Linked DNA regions of Homo sapiens: regions 1, 2, 3, 5 and 6 are each linked to region 4. The links come from fine-mapping of genetic effects on gene expression. A gene starts in region 4. Each other region holds a variant in brackets. All regions are shown on one strand. Distances are between the middles of the regions.

Region 1 (4,093 bases), 69 kb before region 4:
CTGGGATTACAGGCATGTGCCACCACACCTGGCTAATTTTGTATTTTTAGTAGAGATGGGGTTTCTCCATGTTGGTCAGGCTGGTCTCGAACTCTCAACCTCAAGCGATCCGCCTGCCTCAGCCTCCCAAAGTGCTGGGATTACAAGCATGAGCCACCACGCCCGGACCCTCTCATAAACTCTTAAAAAGAGAAGAGGAGGAAACACTTTTCACCTTATTCTATGTCGCCAGTATTACCCTGATACCAAAACCAGTCAAAGATATCATAAGAAAAGTACAAACCAATATCCCTTATACATATCAATACAAACATCCTCAACAAAACACAAACTGAATCCAATGAGATTCATCCAAAGAAGATAAGGATGCTTTAACTTTGAAAAATCAGTCAATGTAATGCACTGTATTAATAGCATGACAACAAAACCACATAGTCATCTGAAGAGATGGGAAAAAAAGCATTTTACAAAATTTAACAATCTTTCATAATACAAACACACAAAAACTAAGAATAGAAGGGAACTTCCTCCACCTGATCAAGGGAATCTACAAACAAACCACACCTAACATTACACATGTGGTAAAAGACAGAATGTTTTTGCCCTAAGGAAGTCCACTCTCACCACTTCTATTCAACATTGCAATGGAGGATCAAGCCAGGACAATTAGACAAGAAAGAAAAGTGAAAGACATCAGATGGGAAAGAAAGAAGTAAAACTATCTCTGTTTGTAGATGACATGATCTAATATTAAAAATTCTAAGCATGCCACAAAATAAACTATTAGGCATATAAAATTAGTTCATTAAGGTTGCTGGGTAGCAGATCAATATACAAAAGTCGGTTGGTTCTATACACTAGCAATGAACAATTTGAAAATAAAAGTAAGAAAATAGTTCCATTTATAATAGTATCAAAAAGAATAAAATATTTTAAGGATAGATTTTTCCAAAAAATTCAAGACTTCTACACTGAAAACTATAGTACAAAACATCATTGGAAGAATTACAGAGGATCTAAATTAATGGAAGACATCTCATGAACATAGATTGGAATACTCAATACTTATTGTTAAGACGGCAGTACTCCCCAAATTGATCTACAGATTCAATATAATCCCTATCATTATCCCAGCTGGCTTTTTTTTTTCGGCAGAAACTGACAAGCTTATTATACAATTCATACGGAAAGGCAAGGCACCAAGAATAACCAGAACAATCTTGAAAAATTAAAACAAAGTTGAAAGACTCACACGTCCTGATTTTAAAGCTTACTACAAAGTGACAGTAAGCAAGACAGTGTGGTACTAGCCGGACATGTAGATCAATGGAAGAGAATTTAGAGTCCAGAAATAAATCCTTATGTTTGTGGCCAATCAATTTTGACAAATAGAGCTACCCTAGAATCCAGCAATCCCACTGCTGGGTATATACCCAAAAGAAAGAAAATCACTATACTGAAGAGATGTCTGCATGCCCATGTTTATTGCAGCACTATTCACAATAGCCAAGATCTGGAAGCAACCTAAGTATCCATCAATAGATGAATGGATAAAGGATATGTGGTACATATACACAATAAAGTACTATTCAGCCATAGAAAAGAATTAGATGCTGTAATATGCATGGGACTGGAGGTCATCATGTTAAGTGAGACAAGCCAGGCACTGACTGACAAACTTTGCATGTTCTCACTCACTTGTGAAAGCTAAAAATTAAAACAGTTGAATTCATGGAGATACAGAGGGGAAGAATGGTTCCCAGAAGGTAGTAAGGGCTGGGGTGGGGAGGACAGAAGGATGGTTAAAGTGTACACAAATATAGTTAGAATGGGTGGGTGCGGTGGCTCATGCCTGTAATCCCAGCACTTTTGGAGGCCGAGGCAGGTGGATCACTTGAGGTCAGGAGTTCGAAACCAGCCTGACCAATATGCTGAAACCCTGTCTCTTCTAAAAATACAAAAATAAGCCGGGCATGGTGGCGTGCATCTGTAGTCCCAGCTACTTGGGAGGCTGAGGCAAGAGAATCACTTGAACCCAGGAGGCGGAGGTTGCAGTGAGCTAAGATCATGCCACTGCACTCCAGCCTGGGTGACAGAGCGAGACTCCATCTACAAAAAAAAAAAAAAAGAAATATATATATTTCTTTTCTATTTATACATATGTATATATATGAATTAGAATATATGTATATATTCTAATATATATATTAGAATGAATAAGATCTAGTATTTGATATCACAACAGGGTGACTACAGTCAACAATAATTTATTGTACATTTTAAAATA[C/A]CTAACAGATTATAATTGGATTGTTTGTAACACAAAGCTATGACAAATGCTTTAGGAGATGGATACCCCGTTTACCCTGATGTGATTGTTATACATTATATGCCTGTATCAAAATGTTTCATGTACTGCATAAATACATACACCTACTATGTACCCACAAAATTAAAAATTAAAATATTTTTAAAAATTAGGAAATTATTAGACTCATAGATATAATTTTAAATTAGAAATTAGAAAATCAAGCACGGGTGGTTTTATGAGTAGGTCCAGTATTACCCTCCTCTCTCTAGATCTTTTTAACAAATGGTGCTGGGAAAACTGAATATCAACATGCAAAAGAATAAAGTTGGACTCCTTTCTTACATACACAAAAATTAAATCCATATGAGTCATAAACCTTAATGTGAGAGCTAAAACTATACACTCTTAGAAGAAGTACTAAAGGTAAATTTTAATATCCTTGAGTTAGGTAAAGTCTTCCTAGATAAAACAACAAAGCAAAAGTGGCAAATGAAAAAAAAAGATTGATTGGACTTGATCAAAATTAAAAACTTTTGTTCTGCAAAAGACACCATCAGGTTAAAAAAAAAAACCCCACAAAATGGGAAAAATATTTGCAAATCAAATATATTCAGAATAGAAGGGTAACTTGCTTCTAGAATAAGTACAGAACATCTACAACTCAATAATAAAAAGAAAAATAAGCTATTTTTTAAAAAAATGCACAAAGGATCTGAACAGACATTTCTCTAAGAAAGATATATAAATGGCCAACAAGAATATGAAAAGATGCCCAAAAATTATCCACCATTAGGGAAGTGAAAATCAAAACCACAATGAGATATCACTTCACACCCATGAGGATGGCTATAATTAGACAAATAATAGTAAGTATTGGCCAGGCGCTGTGGCTCCCGCCTGTAATCCTAGCACTTTGGGAGGCCAAGGCAGGCAGATTACGAGGTCAGGAGTTCGAGACCAGCCTGACCAACATGGTGAAACCTCATCTCCACTAAAATACAAAAATTAGCCGGGCGTGGTGGTGCTTGCCTGTAATCCCAGCTACTCAGGAGGCTGAAGCAGGAGAATCGCTTGAACCCGGGAGGCGGAGTTTGCAGTGAGCTGAGATCACGCCATTGCACTCCAAATAGAGTGAGACTCCATCTCAAAAAAAATAGTAAGTATTGGCAAGGACACGAAAAATTGGAACCCTCTTAGTTTACCATGGGAATGTAAAATGGTGCAGCCACTTTGGAAAACAGTGTGTCAGTTACCCACAATATTAAACAGAGTTCTTATATTACCTAAAAATTCTACTCCTGGGTGTATACCCCAGAAATCAAAACATATGTCTACGTAACATTTGTACATAAATGTTCATAGTAGCAGCATTTTTTGTAATAGCCAAAGAGTAGAAACAACCCAAATGTCTATCAACTGATGAGTGACTAAACAGAATGTGGTCTATCCATACAAGAGACTATTAGCCACAAAAGCAAATGAAGTTCTTATCCATGGCACGGCGCTAATGACCCCCAAAGACCTTGAAAATGTGAAGTGAAAGAAGCCAGGCGCAAAAGACCACATGCTGTATCAGACCATGGATGCGAAATGTCTGAAAAAGGGAAATCCACAGAGCCAGAAACTAAATTAGTGATTGCCAGGGGCTGGGAGGAAGAGAAAATAGGGAGTGACTGCTCATAGGTGTGGGATATATTTTTTTTGAAGGTGATAAAAATGTTCTAAATTACGTAGTCATGATGGTTACACAACTCTTCAAAAGTATTAAAAAACGCTAAATTTCAC
Region 2 (4,093 bases), 49 kb before region 4:
TTCACACTATCGTTATTTGATCTTTTCCCACATCCATCGTTTTTGAACATGTAAAATTATTAAGTGTTCATTACATAAGAATGGAAATTATAGAAAAGTAAATAAAAAGTAATGTAGTATCTGGTGTGATTGAGGAGATAAATGTTCCCATCACAGTGATCTTTATCTTGACTTGAAACATTCTCAAAAGAAACGACAAATTATCAATGAAAACAGAAACAGAAGGCTGGGCCCAGGGCATCAGAGAAGAATCTGTTTGGCAGACACTGCCCCCAATATCTTTAAAACTTTTCACAGAAATTTTCTCAGCAGACTTTACAACACTCCTCCAAAGTATTTCAGTGAAAGGAGTATTACCCCAATTAAACAAGAAGGCAAGGACACTGCAGTTGAATAAGAGAAATTATAGGTATAAATAGGACTGCAACAGCCCAGGAATCTTTCATAATAAAAAATAAGGAAACAGCCAGGCGCGGTGGCTCACGCCTGTAGTCCCAACACTTTGGGAGGCTGAGGCGGGCGGATCACGAGGTCAGGAGATCAAGACCATCCTGGCTAACACGGTGAAACCCCATCTCCACTAAAAAATACAAAAAAATTAGCCGGGCATGGTGGCGGGCGCCTGTAGGCCCAGCTACTTTGGAGGCTGAGGCAGGAGAATGCTGTGAACCCGGGAGGCGGAGCTTGCAGTGAGCCGAGATCGCGCCACCGCACTCCAGCCTGGGCGACAGAGCGAGACTCCGTCTCAAAAAAAAAATAAAAATAAGAAATAAGGAAACAGTATTTCTTGCCATGAATGTTTATGTAATTATCTAACGGGCTTTCAGCTTCCACAGTCAAATACCGATGTCACGATGACACGATAATGCCGCTGGACTTTGTCGGCCTTGGTAAACGGCACTGAGGACCCGAGTTCCTCTTGCAACTGCCAAGCGTTTCACGGGAACGTCATCTGGGGAGTCAACGGCTTCAGGATTAGCAACCACCATCTTTCAAAAGCGGTGTCATATGTTAAAAGGAGCTGGAATCATGAGGGCTAAAAAAAGATGAGTGATTGAAAAAATAGTCATGATGAAAGAGGCCAGGAATGCCAGAAGTAATAACATTTATTACCAAATTTCACAAAAAGCCTAACCTTTTACATATAAAATACAGAAAACCAAAAGAGAAACAATATACTTAGGAAAGTTTTGCAAGGCAGGTGACCAACCATAGGTGTCTTTGCTTATTGTAAAGAGAGCTTTGTCATATCAGTAAAGAAAAGGGGAAATATTCTATTGAAAAATAGAGACTCTCAAAAGCCAGTTCTTGACCATCAAACATGAGACAGATTTCTCAGTTACACTCCTGATTAAGGAAATGGAAAGCAAAATACTAGTGCTGTATAACTGGCTATTTACATAGCATTGGCAATAAATGAAGCTTAATAAAACCCAGCATTGGTGAGGTTTACCAGTCTCCTGCACCACTGGTGAGAGGCTGAGTTGGACAACAATTTTGGCGGGCAATAGGTAATTCCTGTGAAAATACACTTATCCTTTTTCAGGCAACTCACTCTACAGATATTTGTTTTTAAGTACATATAAAAATAGATACATAGAGATACATAGATATCTTTCTACATATCTCTATCTATCTATCTGTCTGTCTGTCTGTCTGTCTGTCTATCTATCTATCTATCTATCTATCAACATTAATTGCATCATTAACAAGGCCAAAAAAATGAGGGGTGGGTGGGGGGCTGAGCCCTCGTATCAACAAATAGAAGAGACTGGATCGAGGTTTTGCAGCTATTAAATAGAATAAAGTGATATGAACTAAATATGCAGGTGGAAGGTTCTGCAAGTCATGTTATTAAATGAAAAAGC[G/A]TGATTCAATATCATATACATACATGCAAACATATAGACATGTGTGCACATATGTATGTATATATTTTTCTGTATTTGTATATATTACATATGTATATTTATAGTTTTATTTGGGCATCACATTGAAGGATTTGCTTTACCTCTGGATACTGGAAATAGGTTAAGGGGACAGGGTTTGAAGTGAATGAAGTTTGTCTGGATTTCCTTCTAAATCTGCACGAAGCACAAAGACTGACGTGTCAGCTTGAGGCTCCAAGGGGACAGAGTTTGAAGTGAATGAAGTTTGTCTGAAGTTCCTTCTAAATCTACACGAAGCACAAGGACTGACATGTCAGCTCGAGGCTCCAAGGGGACAGAGTTTGAAGTGAATGAAGTTTGTCTGAAGTTCCTTCTAAATGTGCACGAAGCACAAGGACTGACGTGTCAGCTCGAGGCTCCAGGGTTTGCTGCTTGGGAAGGTGGGTCCTGCTGGGCTGTGGGAAGTCCACAGGTTTCAGTTCACATGATTCGAAGCACACATTACTATAAGGGTCAGCTCTTATAGGATACCAGTTCGGGGAGTTTCAATTTGACTTAGGAGAGGGTCTAAATCTGAAGAACAAAGCCAAATAACACACACCCAGGTGAGTTTCATTGTCAAAACCATTGAAACTGGCTGAGACCCACACACCCCCACCCACTGCCTGGCTGAGCCCGGCTCCACTTTTAGACATTGCGGGGAGGGGTGCAATCCCGCCACTTAGTCCTGCCCTCCCGCCAGCCCAGGCATAGTGGAAGGAAGGCGGTCAATCTGGGCTTTCTAGAACGATGCTGAGACTCCCTGACTCTGCCGAGCACTTGTGTAATGACTGCACGCGTTGAGGACTGAGAGAAGTTACTCCTTTGACAAAATTGCATTTCCAGGAGTACATTATTTAACTTTGTTCTGGCCCCTGTCAATCTCCAAAGAAAGTACTTCTCTTCATTCTAGAAAGATGAGGAACATTTTTCCCAAGAGCAAATGAAGGCTTAGACAAAGCATGTGGTATAAGTCACTTCTGGGTGGAAAATGGATTGCCTTTGTTTTATATTGACCTATCAAATGATAAAAAAAAAACACACACACACACACACCAAAAAACCAATGTTTTTTTTTTTTTAATATAAAATTTGCTTGCTTCAAAAAGATTGAAAACTGCCAGTCGCGGTGGCTCACGCTTGTAATCCCAGCACTTTGGGAGGCCGAGGAGAGTGGATCACCTGAGGTCAGGAGTTGGAGACCAGCCTGACCAATGTAGTGAAACCCCATCTCTACTCAAAATGCAAAAATTAGCCAGGCGTGGTGGTGGGCGCCTGTAGTCCCAGCTACTCAGGAGGCTGAGACAGGAGAATTGCTTGAACCCAGGAGGCGGAGGTTGCAGTGAGCCAAGATTGTGCCACTGCACTCCAGAGCAAGACCCTGTCTCAAAAAAACAAAAAGTTTTGAAAACTACTAAGCTACTACAGCATATAATGAAGTCATGATAAATGAACATGAATCTGACATAGGGTTTAGTTGTAAAGTACATTCCATCTTAAAAAGTACCTACACGCTAGGACCTGGTGTTCCTGCCTGATTTAAATCTTTCTTTCTTGTTTCCTTTGCTCCTCATTCCCACCATTGCCTGTTTCTTCCTTCCCTCCCTCCCTCCTCGTGCTCTGATGCCTCTCTGTTGTTTTAGAACACATTCTACAACCTCGCAGTGTCAAAGGCTCACCAGCCATTCCCACCACCATCCTGCGGGGCAGCCTGATTATGTTCAGGGAACAATACAGTCGCTCTGAGGAATGGCCCAAACAGAGGCACCCACACACTCCCCTTGCCAGGGGAGAATGCCAGGAGAGACCCTGTCATCCAGTAGGATGTCTGCTGGGGCTGCCCAGAAATATTTCCCCCCCATAAGGGAGAGAGGTGCAAGAGCAGAAAGTCCTTCTCTTGCGAACCTGGAACCCCGTTGTGAAAACACATGGTGCTTTCCCAGGCAGCTGCCGCCTATGTCCATGTTAAACAGTGACTGCTCGGTAGACAGCCCAACTCTCTAGGGATGACAGAACAGAAATAACCTGGTTCTCAGTGGCCTGAGTGGCCGAAATACCTTGGGACCAGCTATCTCTGGACTTAAGTAAACTAGAAATGTCCTTGTGCTTTAAGCCAGGTTTTTGTTACTTGTAAGCAAAATATCACTTTAATCGAATGGAGAAAAGGA
Region 3 (4,093 bases), 38 kb after region 4:
AGAGTCTGAGCCAGGTGAGGTGCGGTCAGGACCCCCACAGGGCTGGGAGTCAGGGCAGGGGCAGAACAAACCTTGGAGGGGAAGATGTGTGCATAGTGGGCCTGGAGGGCGGCTGTGGCCTAGTGGACAGGAAGAAGCAGTGGGCCTGGAAGAGCTGCATGATCAGGGCCGGCACTGGTCCAGGGCACGTGCAGTGAAGAGGACAGCTCCTTCTCGGTCTCCGGTTCCCTGAGCCTGTCCTCGGCTTCTCCACCTGTACAGGCAAAGGGGAAGCTGTCCCCATCACACATGGCACACTTGGGGGTGTTGGGCTTTGGACTGCAGCTGGAACATCTTCTCATCTTGCATTTGGGCGTGGTGGGGTCCTCCAGTGTGGGATCCATGTCCGTGGGGTTCCCTCTGCCCCGACCCCTAAAGCCCAGTCAGTTTCTCTTCAGGCTCTGCTCCCCGGGTGGCTCAGCCCAGCTCCTGCCTAGGAAAGCCTTAGTGTTGGGAGGGACCCTGATGACTGAGGAGCCTGGTAGCTCCAGGTCGCCCACACTTTCAGGTCTCTTGCACCAGAAGGTGGCAGGATCCATTGGGAGGAAACAGGCCACCTTGGAAGGCGTCCCTGGGCCCCCATCCCCAGGGGTTGGGGCCGTAGGGGGCCCGCTCTGCTGCGTTGACCAGACTCCTGGGCTTTGAAGGCTCCTGGGCCCAGTAAGAAGGAGGTGGGCGCCAAGGTTGAGGAGGAAGCATCCGAGTATGTGTAGGAGGAGGACAGGGTGTGACCATAGACTGCCAAAAGCTGCAGGTGGATCGGGGGACGCTGGGGGCTCAGGATCCAGCAAGGGGCGGCAGGAGTAAAGGAGGAAGGAATGACAGGTGCAAATACCTTCCCACCAAAGCCCTTGTTGCCCTCTGGCTCCTCCCCAGAGCTGTCCCCACTCTCAGTCGGTCACCCACTCCTTGAACTTGAGATCGGTGTCGGTGGTGCTAAAGCCATCATCAGCAATGACATCATCACCCCCTCCTCCTCATGGATGACCGTGTGCTCCTCGTCACTCGCTGTGTCCTCACTGGCCATGTGCTGGGAATGAGCAGCTCAGGTGGGCAGCAGCAGGGCTGCCCACGGGTCACCTCCCTCACCAGGGGCTGCAAAGTGGCCTGGAGCTCCATGCTGAGTAGAAGGCTTTGGGCCAGAGTATGATGCAGTGCCAGACACCACCTGTGTCAGTTCCCGTAGTGCCTGACGGTCTATTTCCCTGCCGTCCAGGCTGTGTACCCCGCTGTGGGAGAAGGCTTGGGCCAGGCTGAGCCAGGTTCCCTGACTGTGTGCAGCCGTTCTGCCCCACAGAAGCTGCTCCTTGGCATCCGAGCTCTGGAGTGTTTGGGCTGCAACTGACAGGAGTTCAGAGGACGCCCCAGGGGCAGTGGCAGTGCCCGTCTCTGATATGCTCCGCTCCCACGAGCCCTTGTTACACTGCTGCTAGCCCCTGGCTTGTGGGCTTGGCCTCTGAGCTGGACTTCTTTCGGTCCTTGTTGCAAGTGGGCCACCTTCACCTGGAAGGCCAGGTCGTATTTCTGCATCTCACTGGGCCCCAGGGTGTACCACCGCTCGCTCAGCATCTGGCTGACGGTCCGGTTATCCTGGTTGGGGTGACCCTGGTGCGCCCCGCCAGGGCCTGGTGCCGCTTGCTGAAGATCATGAGCGCCACTCATGGGCCACC[A/G]GATGTGGTCCTTGTCCCATTTGTTGGGGCTGCGTCCATCCTTCTCAGAAGATGAGTCCTGTTCCTTGCGCAGGGCACTGAGGGACTGGGCCTGACATCATCTGAGTGGTAGAGGCAACTGGGTGTCAGGAGACATGATGGAGAGGAAAGCATCATCATGGTCATTCTCTGTCTCACTGTCCAGCAGGGACTCCCCTGAGGGGCCCAGGGCTCCTCCTCCATGGTGGGAGGTGAGCTTTTACCAGGTTCCACCACCCCCAAAGTGTGTGGGGTTGCGGGCCCTGGGCTTTCAGGGCAGGTGGCTCCAGGGGGCCGCCCAGGGTCAACACTCCCTGTCCCACCTGGTGGACGCTCATGAGCAACAGCTGGCAACTTGGCAGGTTGTTTTCTCTGGTTGCAGGCCACTGAGTGACTGGCAGGTTGCTGGGCCTCGTGTGGCTGCAGGGAGGGGTCAGGAAGGGGATGGAGTACCAGGGGAACACAGCCGCAGAGTGACCTTCCACATTCCTCCACACGAACATGCTGACGCCACGGGAGGCCTCACTGAACGCAGGCCTGGGGGCCGAGTACTTGGTCCGGGCAGGGGGTTCCTGGCAGGGGCTCACACCTCCTCGCCCCCTCCTCAGCCAAGGTGGCTTGGGCCCAGAGAAGGGGAGGTTGGAGAGGAGCAGAAGGCCAGGCCTCAAGTTTTGTTTTTTTTGTTTGTTTTGTTTTTTGTTTTTGAAATGTAGTTTGACTCTTGTCACCCAGGCTGGAGTGCAGTGGCACGATCTCAGTGGCCTTCATACCTGGCTAATTTTTTGTATTTTTACTGGAGGTGGGGTTTTGCCATGTTGGCCAGGCTGGTCTTGACCTCCCGACCTCAGGTGATCCACCCACCTCAGCCTCCCAAAATGGGATTACAGGCATGAGCCACCGCTCCCAACTTCATTCCTTTTTACTTGAAAAACTCCGTTAAGCATTTTTTTAAGGTAGACCTAGTGGTCCTGAATGCCCTCAGCTTTGTTTGTCGAGGAAACACGTTATTTCTTTTTTCTTTCTGAAGGACAGCTTTGTCAGACATAGTATTAGTTGCTGGCAGTTTTTTTCTTTCAGCACTTTGAATGTATTATTCGATTCTGTCCTGACCTGCAAAGTTTCTTTAACTTTTGACTATTTGATTATATTGTGACTTGGTGAGTATCTATTTGGTTTGAACCTCTTTAGGAATCTTTAAGCTTCATGGATTTAGATGTCTAAATCTTTCCCATGATTTAGGCAGTTTTCAGCCATTCTTTAAATAAGCTTTCTTCTCCTTTCTCTACTTTCCTTCTCAAACTCCCATAACCTGACAATGGTTTGCCTAATGGTGTCTTGTTGGCTTTCTTTTCTCTGTCTCTTTTTTTTTTTTTTTTTTTTTTTGAGACAGAGTCATGCTCTGTCACCCAGGCTGGAGTGCAATGTGTGGTCTCGGCTCACATTGCACTCCAACCTCCGCCTCCTGGGTTCAAGTGATTCTCCTGCCTCAGCCTCCCAAGTAGCTGGGACTACAGGTGTGTGCCACCACACCCGGCTAATTTTTGTATTTTTAGTAGAGATGGGGTTTTGTCATGTTGGCCAGGCTGGTCTTGAACTTCTGACCTCTTAATCTGCCTGCCTCGGCCTCCCAAAGTGTTGGGATTACAGGCTTGAGCCACCACGCCCAGCCTTCTTTTCTCTTTTTTATTCTTTTTTTCTTTGTCCTCTGACTGGATAATTTCAGAAGATCTATATTCAAGTTTACAGATTCTCTCTCCTGTTGAAGTTTACTATTGTGTTATATCACCCAGTCTGGTCTTGAACTCCTGGGCTCAAGCGATCCTCCCACCTTGGCCTCCCAAAGTGCTGAGTTTACAAGCATGAGCCACTGCATCCAGTCAGTCCCAGCACTTTGGGAAGCTGAGGTGGGAGGATCACTTGAGCTCAGGAGTTTGAGACCAGCCTGGGCAACATACTGAGAACTTGTCTGTATATTAAAAAAAAAAAAAAAGTCTTTGGGAGGCCAAAGCGGGAGGATCACCTGAGGTCAGGAGTTCGAGACCAGCCTGGCCAACATGGCAAAACCGCATCTCTACTAAAAATACAAAAATTAGCCAGGTGTGGTGGCACACACCTGTAGTGGTGGTGCATGCCTGTAGTCCCAGCTACTCAAGAGGCTGAGGCAGGAGAATCACTTGAACTGGGAGATGGAGGTTGCAGCGAGCTGAGATTGCACCAGTGCACTCCAGCCTGGGCAACAGAGTGAGACTCCATCTTATAAAAGGAAAAAAGAAAGAAAAGAAAAATTCCATATCTGAGTGTTTACTCCTGAGTTTTTGAGATTGTTATTAAGATCGTGCTCTACTGTGATGATTTGGGTTTGTTTG
Region 4 (4,093 bases):
TTGATCCCTCAAACTTCAGTAGCAGGAGACTTAGAGGGCCCAGTTGCTGCTGACATTGTTAAGCACTGAACTGATATTAGCATTTGCTTAGAAAGACAAGAGAATACCCACATATCCAATACGTTTTAAGTAAAAATCTATACTTCTTTTGTATGTTGTCATTTAAAATAATGAATTTATCAGCTTAATTAGATAGAGCAAAAGTTTTTATGTAATTTGGAAAGTTTGGGTTAATTGTCCCACCTCGAGAACGTGGATGTTTATCACAGGAAATATTTGTCAGAGTGTTTGTTGTAGAAATCCGTGATGCTCACTTCAAGCTATAATCTGTGTTTGCCACAGAGGTTTGTTCTAATTCCCCAACCTTGCCACGACTGACCTGGGTCATCACCATGTGCTTATTGAAGAGCCTTGGAATACTGTATAGACCCGTACAGAGTTGTTCAAATAGGTAAGCACTTTCCTTCTGGTGAATTTTTTTTTTTTTTTTTTTTTGAGATGGAGTTTCACTCTTGTTGCCCAGGCTGGAGTGCAATGGTGAGATCTTGGCTCACTGCAACCTCCGCCTCCCAGGTTCAAGCGATTCTCTTGCCTCAGCCTCCGGAGTAGCTGGGATTACAGGCACCTGCCTCCACGCCCGGCTAATTTTGTATTTTTAGTAGAGATGGGGTTTTCTCCATGTTGGTCAGGCTGGTCTTGAACTCCCAACCTCAGGTGATCTGCCTGCCTCGGCCTCACAAAGTGCTGGGATTACAGGTGTGAGCCAACGCGCCAGGCCGAAAATATTTTATAATAAAGTGACTGTTGTAGATCAACTTTATAATACAATGCGGATTCTCAATTCTTATAACAAAGACTAATGTACATAAATTTCAGTATGTTTTAAAATTAGCCAGTACTTAGTAGAAAGCCCATATAGTTTACTGTAGCACTTCTGCACTTATAGTTTAGGTCTATCTAGATGTATGACTTCTCAGATGCTGCCGAATATTGACCTTTTGCATGGTATTCAGTCTTTGAATTTTTATTTCATAATATGCTGGAACCACGATATTCTATCTGATCAGCAACTGGTCTGGTATCTGGGGCTCATAATTTTCTTTTTCCGCTTCATATTTCAGACAATTGAGGACGACTATAATAGTTTCTCATTAGAAATACATGCTAATAAACATCATGTCTTTGGTATTAAGTGGCAATTAGATGAAACAACCTGAAATTCTGTCTGATACCAAGATTGAACTTTGCTGAGATTACTGTTTCACTCACCGAAAATATCAGAATACTCAAGGGAGTTATTTTTTTTCTTAATGTAACTTTCATAAAGGAAATGAAAGAAATGTGGAGACTGAAAACAGTTGTCTGGTGTCTCAATACTGCATGCAGGTTCAACTACATTCTAAGCAAGTTGACTGTTATAATACATTTCACATTTTCTGTGATTTTGTTTGTGCTGAGACCTTATGCAATTACAAAGCAGATTTTTTACACTAACCTACACTGAGAAAAGAAAACCACCGTTCCCCTTTTAAACAGGAGAGTGCCTCAAGTACACTCGGGATCCCTCTCACCAAGCACAGCAAGGCTTGTGACTTCAAGCACACCAAGCTTGTGACTTTTTCTCCTACAAGGTGCACCTCGTTTTTTCTTACTGACAAATTGGCTTTAAAGTAAAGTTAGTTCCCTATCACACTGGCCCCCAAGACTCCAACTCCTGCTTCTCTTGGGATCTCTGCCCAGAGTCCAATCTCCCCTAAGGCGTGGTGCAGTGCTGTGCCCACACCTAGGCTCTGGGGGTGGGCACCCTTTGACTTTCCTCATATCATTCCACCCTCGACACATCCAAATGTGAACACATCTTCTCCACAAAGTGCCCCTTCACCACGCCAGTTCCCAGACACTTTATTTCTTCCCTTGCCTAGAGTGCTGCCCCCAAAACCAGCCCCCCATCATTGGCCATGTCCTTGCAGAGGCTGAACCATCCCACAATCTGTCAAGGATATCAGGGAAGAGCATGAGCTGGATAGACTTCAGGCTCTGCCAGCAGCTACATTCTAGGGGTGCCCGGACGTCCTGGTCTCTTGAGATGAGATGGTCTTGTGTCTGGAATTGGTCTCACTGACTAAAAGAATAAAGCCGCAGACCTTCACAGTGAGTGTGACAGTTTTTAAAGATGGTGTGTCTGGAGCTAGTTCCTTCAGATGTTTGGACGTGTTCAGTTTCTTTCTGCTGGTGGGTTTGTGGTCTCGCTTGCTTCAGGAGTGGCTGCAGACCTTTGTAGTGAGTGTCACGAGCTCTTAAGGTGGTGCGCCTGGAGTTTCTCATTCCTCCCAGTGGGTTTGCCATCTCACTGCCTTTAAGGAGGGAAGCTGCAAAGCTTCGCGCAGTACGACAGTTTCCAAACATGATGCAAGCACAGCTTACCACGGTTGCCTCCGCAGCCCGCTTTTATTCCCTTATCTGACCCCACCCACATCCTGCTGATTGGCCCATTTTACAGAGAGCTGATTGGTCCGTTTTGACAGGGTGCTGATTGGTGCATTTAGGAATCTTGAGCTAGACACAGAGTGCTGATTGGTGCATTTACAATCCTTTAGCTAGACACAAAAGTTCTCCAAGTCCCCACTAGATTAGACACAGAGCACTGATTGGTGCGTTTACAAACCTTTAGCTAGACACAGAGTGCTGATTGGTGTTATAATCCTGTAGCTAGACATAAAAGTTCTCCAAGTCCCCACCAGACTCAGGAGCCCAGCTGGCTTTGCCTAGTGGATCCTGCGCTGGGGCCGTGGGCAGAGTTGCCCGCCAGTCCCACACTGCACACCCACACCACGCACCAGCACTCCTCAGCCCTTAAGCATCGATAGGACTGTGTGCTGTGGAGCAGGGGGCGGCACCCCTTGGGCAGGCTCAGGCTGCTCAGAAACCCACGGCGGCTGGGGGGAGGCTCAGGCATGGTGGGCTGCAGGTCCCGAGCCCTGCCCCGTGGGGAGGCAGCTAAGGCCCAGTGAGAAATTGAGCGCAGCACCGGTGGGCCGGCACTGCTCGGGGAGCCAGAGCACCCTCCACAGCTGCTGGCCCGGGTGCTAAGCCCCTCACTGTCTGGGGCTGGTGGGGCCGGCCAGCCAGCTCTGAGTGTGGGGCCCACCAAGCCCACGCCCACCCGCCAAGCCCACGCCCACCCGGAACTCTAGCTAGATCACAAGTGCCATGCGCAGCCCCAGTTCCTGCCCCTGCCTCTCCCTCCACACCTCCCCGCAAGCTGAGGGAGCCGGCTCCTGCCTCGGCCAGCCCAGAGAAGGGCTCCCACGGTGCAGCGCTGGGCTGACGGGCTGCTCAAGCACAGCCAGAATGGGCGCCGAGGCCGAGGAGGCACCGAGAGCGAGTGAGGGCTGCCAGCACTCTGTCACCTCTCACTACCGCACTCTGTCCTACCCTCCCATGCCCCTCCAGCACCCTGATCCTACCTGCACCCCGCTCCTACTGAGAGGTGAAGCCCGGCTGGGCTTCTGGGTTGGGTGGGGACTTGGAGAACTTTTCCCTCTAGCCAAATGTTTGTAAATGCACCAATCAGCAGACTGTAAAAACGCACCAATCAGCACTCTGTGTCTAGCTAAAGGTTTGTAAGTGCACCAATCAGCACTCTGTAAAAATGCACCAATCAGTGCTCTGTGTCTAGCTAAAGGTTTGTAAATGCACCAATCAGCACTCTGTAAAAACGCACCAATCAGCTCTCTGTAAAATGGACCAATCAGCAGGACATGGGCAGGGCCAAATAAGGGAAAAGCTGGCCATGCGAGCCAGCAGTGGCAACCTGCTTGGGTACCCCTCGATGCTGCAGAGGCTTTGTTCTTTCACTCTTCACAGTGAATCTTGCTGCTGCTCACTTTTTGGGTCCGCACCACCTTGAAGAACTGTAACACTCACTGCGAAGGTCTGCGGCTTCTATTCTGAAGTCAGCCAGACCATGAACCCACCAGGAGGAACAAACAACTCTGGACGCCCCACCTTGATAGAGCTGTTAACACTCACTGCGAAGGTCTGCAGCTTTACTCCTGTGAAGTCAGCAAGATCACGAACCCACCAGAAGGAA
Region 5 (4,093 bases), 100 kb before region 4:
CTGGGGAGAGTGGCGCCAGAAGCCATCGTCAATGATGGCATTGAACTGAACACCTGGCGCCCGCTCTACATACATCAGACCCCGGGCAAGGCCCTGCGGGTGCACAAAGAGCAAGGCATGGTTTCTGCCCCCAAGGAACCTGCACCTCCATAGGGAGCACAGAGCTGCACGCCCAGGTGTTCAGGGCAGAAGAAAGAAAGTGGTCCAGGGTACTCGCAGCCAAGGCACCCTCAAGTGTCCCAGCAGCAGCAAATGAAACTCCAGTCAGACAGTTGAAGCACCTTCAGTGAGGAATCACTTCATGAATCGCATGGCAGGGTGAAGAGAACCCAGAGGAGCCCTGGGCTTGGAGACCAGACAGTGGGAAGCCGTGACCATCGTAGGCCTGAAGGGGCGGAGGAAGAACAGCCTCGTTGGAGCCCAGTGGCCGCTGGAGCCACGGCAGGGGGGCCACCTGCGGAGTAGGTGGGGATCTCTAGGGGCTGAGTTGAGTCCCTCTTCCCCAAATTCCTATGAAGCACCTCAGAATGTGAGTGCATTTGGAGATCGGGCCTTTCAAAAGGTAAGTCAGGTCAAATGAGGCCATCAGGGTGGCCTGGATCCAATCCGACTAATGTCCTTACAAGAAGAAGAGGTGGGGACACAGAGACACAGAGGGAAGCCCATGTGAGGACACAGGGAGAATGAGCCAAGGCGAGAGGCCTCAGAGGAAACGCACTCTGCCTACACCTGCCTCTTGAATTTCCAGCCTCCAGCCTCACAGACTGTGAGTAAATAACTGTTGTTTATGCCACTGAGTCTGTAGTGCCTCACAAACTAATGCAGGGAGAGACACACCTGCTGCCACAGATACAGCTTGATCATGGACAGCATGGGGAAGAAACGCCCTGGCCTTTCTCAACCTTTTCCAAACGCCAGACCCACCCGGAAGCCAGCAAAGGAGTCCAACTGATGTGTTCCATATGTGCCAAGCTCCCAGGACACCTGTGGGGCAAAGAGAGAGGGAACATAAACAGGGAGGGAAAAAATAATCTGCAAAGGCATCCAGTCAGGTATTGAGAAATCAAGACAGGCTGCATGGAGGAGGTGAATCGTGAATGGAGTCTGGAATAACAAATGAGTTAATATGAGTAAAGCACTTAGAATCCTACTTGTCCTACAATAAGAGGTATCTGTGTCATTTTTACCACATATTGATATTTATTACTACTTCTAATTCCTCCTAGAAATACTGGAAGGTTGGTATTATTTTCTCCTTTTTACAGATAGGAACGTTAGACTCAGGGAGGCTGAGCAAATGGCTAAGCCGGGATCCACACTCAGGCCTGCCTGGCTCCAGAGCCACCAGTCCAGGCTGCATCCCAAGAGGAAAAATCCCTCAGCCAGAGGAGGAAGCCTGGGTGAAGGGCAGTTCCGGAGCAGGGTGTTGCAGACTCAGAGGCGTGGTGGCGAGAGAGATGGGCACCTTTGGGGACCCAAGGTGGTACACCAAGGTGGGCCTACAGAGTGCAGCATGGGGAGAGGCAGGAAGCGAGCGGAAGGGAGGCAGGGACAGATGACGATCATCCTCTCCTGCCTTGCCAGAAGCTGATACTCCTCCCAGGGAGCTTGGGAAGC[C/T]TTCCTGGGATTCAGATTTTAGATTGAACATCTTGAGAGCAGTTTAGAGGATGTCATATTCTAGCAAGTAAGACTGAAGGCGGGGAGATCAGTTAGAAGACCTTTACAGAAAGCCAGGTAAAAAATAATGAGGACCTTAACCAAAGATGGGCCTTGGGGAAGGGGGACTGAAGGGTGCTGGTGGAGGAAGCCACAGACTGCAAGATGTGCAGGACTTGAAACTCACTGGATTTGGGAAATGGGGAGGAGGAAGACGCAAAGGGTAACTCTGGGTTCCTGGCTTAGGGAACTTCATGGATGGCGGTGCCCTTCCCAAAGGCTGGGAGCAGAGGAGGAGGAACCTGTTAAGTGAGAAAATGATGATTGCTGCCCAGACACCTGAGTTTCAGGTGCCTCTGGGTTACCCAAGCAGAAAAGACAGAGCCAAATTCCATGAGAAAAAACAGCAAACCCAACAACAACTTAAATTTTGTTAAGTGTCTTACAGCAAAATCACAAGATTTTGATTGCTCTAAAAATGATTATTTGTTCCACCTTTGGGAGCAGTGAAAGCACATGCCACCATGAGTAGGTCATCGCTATAAGCATGTTACTTTAATAATTTTAAAATAAGCAGCTGAATTCTAATTTTGCAAAAAATACTTAAATAAGCATTGGAAGATAAAAAGGTAAGAGTGAAAGATGAATAAGACAGAGTCTTCGAGGAAGAGCTGATGGTGGAGTCACAAAACTGAAACAAAGGGTGGCTAAAGAGGATGGAGTGCCAAGGCCTGGCACGGCGGCTCACACCTGTAATCCCAGCACTTTAGGAGGCTGAGGCGGGTGGATCACGAGGTCAGGAGATCAAGACCATCCTGGCTAACATGGTGAAACCCTGTCTCTACTAAAAATACAAAAAATTAGCCAGGCGTAGTGTTGGGCGCCTGTTGTCCCAGCTACTTGGGAGGCTGAGGCAGGAGAATGGTGTGAACCCAGGAGGCGGAGCTTGCAGTGAGCCAAGATCGCACCACTACACTCCAGCCTGGGCAATGGAGCGAGACTCTGTCTCAAAAAAAAAAAAAAAAAAAAAAAAAAGATGGAGTGCTGAGTGCAAAAGCAAAATGGACTTGGTAGATACTGAGGTTCCCACCTGAACACCTATATGACGATGATGGCTACTTCTGGTAAGTCAGGTCAAATGAGGCCATCAGGGTGGCCTGGATCCAATCCGACTAATGTCCTTACAAGAAGAAGAGGTGGGGACACAGAGACACAGAGGGAAGCCCATGTGAGAACACAGGGAGAATGAGCCAAGGAGAGAGGCCTCAGAGGAAACACACTCTGCCTACACCTGCCTCTTGAACTTCCAGCCTCCGGCCTCACAGACAGCCTCACTGAGAGCCACTTCCAGTCCTGTTGTCAGCAGTGGAAGGTAATGCTGGGCGTAAAGGCCAGATGAAGGCAAGGACTCTTAAATTTGACTGGAAGAGTGAATTATACATGTCATGCAGTAGGCCTCTTTCTAATCTATCATTTCAAATTTGTCAGCTTAAATAGGCAACGGATATTGAGGAAGTGAACTATGCGATGTCCTGAATTGTAGAGATAATTTTTAAAAGTCAATGTATGCTAAATAAGTAACCTCAAAGATGGTTTTATGAGATCTTAATTTGAAATAATTTATTTTATCATGCACCTCATTTCCAGTAGTTTGGTAGTTCTGACAACCCCAGCTGTGCTCAGCAGATAGCCTTAGGAATGAAACGGTATGAAAGAGAGACAGCCTCATCGAGAGATGGCTCTCAGTCCTCCTGAAAGTTCTTTGCAATAACATCCATGCAGTTATACTGTTGGTCAAATAATGTCCCTAACATATATTTAGAGAATAATAAAGATAAGGCACTGTCTTTATTATTTATTACAACAGAGGAACCTATGTGCTTTGCAAGACCAATTAAAGAAGATTCTAATGCATACATTTAAAGCTCTGTTTTATTATGTCCTTACTGAGATTTCTACTCATAAAGAAAGACAGATGAGGAGTTGAAAATATACAGAATGGCAGGAGTACTGCCCCCACTCTAACAAGTAAAAACTAGATATACCATAGAATTGTAACTTTTCCTGAGCGCATCAAATACCTGAGGTCATAGGGTAACCAAATAGTTCCAAATCCAAAAAAAAGACAATTCTTTCCGAGGGTAGAAAGGATTTGAGCATTTGTCCACCAGTGGTAAATGGGAGAAACAGAATCCCAGCTACCGTGCAAGTAGATAAGAAGATAAACCTTCAAGACAGATTTCTAGAGAACAACAATGAGCTAGTATGAGAGAAAGCCACTTCCAGGCTCTCCCCACAGCCTTCCACCAGATTCTCATGAGAGGCCACTTCCAGGCTCTCCCCACAGCCTTCCACCAAATTCTTACGAGAGCCACATCCAGGATCTTCCTCCACAGACTTCCACCAAATTCTCTTGAGAGCCACCTCCAGGCTCTGC
Region 6 (4,093 bases), 28 kb after region 4:
TTAAAACATATTTGTCCTCAAAGAATGGCCTTGGTTTCTTTGGGCAGTGTCTCCTCATGGAAAGGTAGTGCATTCCTGCTAAGTCATGGACAAAACTGGCCTCCAGGAGCTGCAAGCTGCAGCAGCAGCTTCTCATCTACGTCCGTCACTACATGATACTGTTGTTGACTTTGAAAGCTTCTTTCAGTCTAGTTTTATCAACAGAGCTAGTATTTCATGAGGATCTACTACATACCAGGTTCCAGAAAGCTAAATGCCTTTTGCTTGTTATTACTCACTAAATACAAACCACAACTCTCTTCTCATTACTCACACAACAAAATTTAGCTGAGGGAGATTGAGTGACTTTCCCAGGGTCGCACAGTTACTAAGAGCAGAGCCGTGTTTAGATTCATGTGGGAATACTGAACGCTGAAATGAACGAGCAGAAATATCCTACGTTCCAAAAGCCTACTCAAGCCATTTGTTCTTAAGGAAAATCTTTATGCTAATTTTAAGCTCCAAATACTTATGAATGGCAGAGATCTACAGATTTCATTCTGATGTAAGAGATGATGCTCACCAGCTGGTTACTGCTACCACCCCACAACCCCGAGCATACTGGACAAATCTCTAAGCCTCGTTGTTAGTGCAGACAATGCTGGTGGAGTCTGAAGTTGTCATGCAGTGACTCACTCAAGCTTAGGCAGATTTGATGATATATGACACAGAGATGCAAAGAAATGCTGTAGCTGACACACAGAGGCTGGCTCTGGGAGATGCAGAAGGAGCATGTCACCCAAAATAAAGCCAGACAGACATCCTTAAGGAAGGAGCAAAGGGGCTGCATCTTAAAGAATGAAGAAGAGATTTGTCATGAGAGATGGGACAGGAAGTTCTTGAGAGGCAGAGGGAGAGCATGAGAATGTCGGGAAGGGAGGAGAGATTCTTGCACATCTGGGAAGCTGACAATCCATCGGCATTGTCAGAAGGAAAATAAGGAGGAGGAGTGGAAATAATAAAAGCAGGGCTGTGTGTTGATTGTGGTAAAGAGTTGTGATTCTATCCAGAAGGCAATAGGTAGCATTCTAAAGAGAGATCTTCTAAAACAAGAGTCAGCAAATATTTTCTGCAAAGGGCTAAATGTTAAATATTTCAAGTTTTCCAAGCCATGTTGTCCCTCTCTCAATGACTCAGCTCTTCCATTATACCATGAAAGTAGCCAGAGACATTGTATAACACATGTATGTGGCTGTGTCCCATTACAACTTTACTTACAAACGCAGACTGTGTCAGACCTGGCCCATGCATGGTAGTTTGCCACACCCTGTTTTAGAAAGCTCAGGTTTATGATGTGATGGAGAATGCCTACAAGAGCTCTTGTTTTAAATGGTAGAGTGAACATACACTGGAATTCTATCCTGCTTGACCCAAGCTCTTGATAGCGAAAGGTAGAAAAGATAGATGGTAAATAGATAGATAGATGATAGATAAAGAAAATACATAGCTGTTCCAGAAAACAGAAATGGATAACTTCATGAACCAAAAGCAGAGTAATATACTTTAGAAAGGGAGCAGGCTGGAAAACTCACAGTTGCAAAGCAAATAGAATTTCCAACTGCCTCTTGTAGCCCCTTCCTGGAAGTAGTCACAACCCAGGGTGTTTCGACTTCTTCCCCTGTTTTTTGTTTGTTTGCTGTTTGCTTTTTTGTGGGTTTTTGTTGTTGTTGTTTGCTTTTTT[A/T]AAAAAAATTCCCTTTCCCTGCTTTTTTGTCACAGCAGTCTTTGTCACTTCAAACACCACAAGTTTTCTTTTTCAAAAAATTATATCAACCTTTCAATTAAAATGCAACATGTCTGAAACTTGATATCTAGAGAGGTGATATGGACAAAGGAGCCCTTGTTACTGCACGTTTCTGTTCTCCAGACTTCACCTTGCACACAAGAACAGACAATGCACAAAACCACTTCCTTATGGACTGAAATTCTGAAATCCTTTTATGACTGGCGTTTCCTAACCCTTCAACTTCCCCTCTCCCATGCTGTGAATGATTGTATTGGACATTTTTGTTTTAATCTCAGTGACAGGGGAACACAGGTAGCTCTAATATAGCTGTGACCCAGATGCTTCTGTTTCTACCATGTATTTATTTTGTAGCAAACATTTACATCCATCGTTTTTCACTGTCTTTTGAAAATAATTAGGGAATATCTCATCTGAGGTAGGATGTTTCTAGTGGTTGTGTTCTGAAGGAGGAAAAACTAATCTGTTCTCTTTCCACTGCATTCCAGGAACAGTGAGAGGACCTTGTGCATGAATAATTTGTTTCCACACTACAGAGTGGGTAATAAGCAGATTAGTAAAAACAATTCTGCTTCACTTCAATAACAGCCTCCTCCAACTCATTTTTTCTCAACAAACTTATTTTTCCAGCAGAATAATCCCAGACTTCTTAAGAGAACCCAGTGACTTTTCGCACCTTAAATCTGTGAAATCCTGTTTTCTTACGCCATATGCATAGTTCAAACATACAAAGATGATGCAAAGCCAGACGCATTCCTGAAGGAGCCTAAGAAATTCCTCTCTTTCTGTCTCTGGAATGAAATGAATTCTCTAGACCATCAGTTCTAACCTTCAGAAACCAAACCTGTTTGTGAGATCTCCTTCAAATGCTACTGTAGACTCCAGTGTTTATTCATTAAATTTTTAAAGTATTTGTTTTATTTGGAATCAGTTTATTTGTAATTTTAGTATTTGTATTAATACAAGGGAGAAATGTTTAAGTCTGTCTATGCCATATATGCCTCTGGCTTATTGCCCAATTAATTGTAGCCTCAGGCTAAACTTTGGTTTCTGTTTTTATTTTTTTCAGGACAAATATAACTGATCTCAAAACATCTGCTTTTATTGTAGGGGCTTGTGCTGCCATCTCCATTCCTCTCTCTTTTCTTGCAATCTGGGTGGAAGTTCTTTAATATGAACATTTCAACCACCTTCATTCTACCATGTCCACTATCAGCACATTCAAGCTTATCCAGCCAAGGCTGTCATCTTAGGCCAGGGATTTTTTAGGAATCTATTTTGCTGTGATGCAGCTGGTACCCCTTTGATTCACTTTATCACTCCAGGGTTTTTTTTCATTTTAGGAGCCCAAGAAGGCAGAAAAAGAAGTAGGTGAGCAATTAAACCCTCTGAGTAGGAGCGTCTCCCCTTGCGTTAAACAATGTTGTAGAACATCGTATTTAGTAAGCTCCTAGCAGATGAGCCACGTGGCTGCTGTGCACACACGCCTGCTTGCTGCTGTGAGCTCAGACACCATCATTAGTCTTTTGCATCTCTGGAGGGAATTATAAGGACCACTTAATAACCTGTGAATCATAGAGAGTTAAAGGTGTTTCCCCAAAACACTGATGACAGAATGAAAGGTGAGGAGTGTTAGCCACAGGTCAAAAGTGCAAGAAAGTCTCTCAATGTGGGTTGTTGAAGAAATGCAGGTCTTTTTTCTTTTGGAAGTCTCCCTAGAATGGGGTCAAGGACTCTGCCCATTCTAGGATGAAAAACTGGGATATTAGACACCCTCAGTTATTTATTCCAAGCCTTCATTTTGGGCTCTTAATTAGTTTATTCAACCATCACAATCTCAAATGCTAGCAAAGCTGAGAACTCAGTTTTGAAATTTACTCTTGGGTCCCCTCAGCCAAGAGTGGGTCTGTTCAGTCAGTTGGGAGCTTAGGATTTCATTTTCATTTATCATTGCTAATGGGAAAGAGTACGCTGTCTTCATGGCAGCTGAATTTGCAAGAAACTCCTTGGATGGGGTTAATGGCAGCTGTATTTTTCTGGGAGCTCTGCTTTAACTGGATAAAGTAAGTTCTGCTAAGATTTCTTCCTTTATCTTCAGTATCTCAAATGCTTTCATTTAAATAATCTTTATAACAACTTTTGATGTCTGAGTGGATTCCCACACAGTCATCTATTGTAAGACTTTCTGATTCCTTTTTTTTCCTTTGTTCATTATGAATAAGGCTTCTGTAAATAATTGCATGGTAGCTTTTGTTTGGAAATAGCATCAAAGTAGTTGTCAAAATACTTAGGAATGTGATTTTTGGATTGTAA

Direction of the effects. Positions count from the first base shown, and alleles are read on the strand shown. Sizes are in standard deviations (SD) of each study's normalised expression. Not every link is listed here.
For the expression in prefrontal cortex of the gene that starts at base 2,422 in region 4, A is the low allele of the variant in region 3 and G is the other (large effect, 0.76 SD a copy in BrainSeq).

The links. PIP is the estimated chance that this variant, and not a neighbour inherited with it, causes the effect.
Region 1: its variant is fine-mapped to the expression of LIRIL2R in amygdala (GTEx, PIP 0.96).
Region 2: its variant is fine-mapped to the expression of LIRIL2R in prefrontal cortex (GTEx, PIP above 0.99).
Region 3: its variant is fine-mapped to the expression of LIRIL2R in prefrontal cortex (BrainSeq, PIP 0.91).
Region 5: its variant is fine-mapped to the expression of LIRIL2R in hippocampus (GTEx, PIP above 0.99).
Region 6: its variant is fine-mapped to the expression of LIRIL2R in whole blood (TOPMed, PIP above 0.99).

What each region holds. Positions count from the first base shown.
Region 1 is chr6:247,319-251,411 of GRCh38, reverse strand. No RefSeq gene overlaps it. Among named protein-coding and RNA genes, the nearest start is that of DUSP22, 43 kb to the left of the region's middle. The variant C/A (reference allele first, on the strand shown) is at 2,288.
Region 2 is chr6:227,750-231,842 of GRCh38, reverse strand. LOC105374870 (a long non-coding RNA gene) reads right to left here and starts at 913. Exons shown (of 3, transcript XR_926357.3): 1 at 845-913. RefSeq lists enhancers at 3,894-3,953, 3,964-4,083. The variant G/A (reference allele first, on the strand shown) is at 1,869.
Region 3 is chr6:140,457-144,549 of GRCh38, reverse strand. It overlaps the pseudogene SEPTIN14P6 and the pseudogene CICP18. Among named protein-coding and RNA genes, the nearest start is that of LIRIL2R, 38 kb to the left of the region's middle. The variant A/G (reference allele first, on the strand shown) is at 1,710.
Region 4 is chr6:178,724-182,816 of GRCh38, reverse strand. It overlaps LIRIL2R (lincRNA regulator of IL2RA), which reads right to left and starts at 2,422. Exons shown (of 2, transcript XR_926349.3): 1 at 1-2,422. It overlaps LINC03066 (long intergenic non-protein coding RNA 3066), which reads left to right. Exons shown (of 8, transcript NR_126020.1): 7 at 343-451; 8 at 1,122-1,351.
Region 5 is chr6:278,683-282,775 of GRCh38, reverse strand. No RefSeq gene overlaps it. Among named protein-coding and RNA genes, the nearest start is that of DUSP22, 12 kb to the left of the region's middle. RefSeq lists a silencer at 1,345-1,499. The variant C/T (reference allele first, on the strand shown) is at 1,618.
Region 6 is chr6:151,067-155,159 of GRCh38, reverse strand. No RefSeq gene overlaps it. Among named protein-coding and RNA genes, the nearest start is that of LIRIL2R, 27 kb to the left of the region's middle. The variant A/T (reference allele first, on the strand shown) is at 1,721.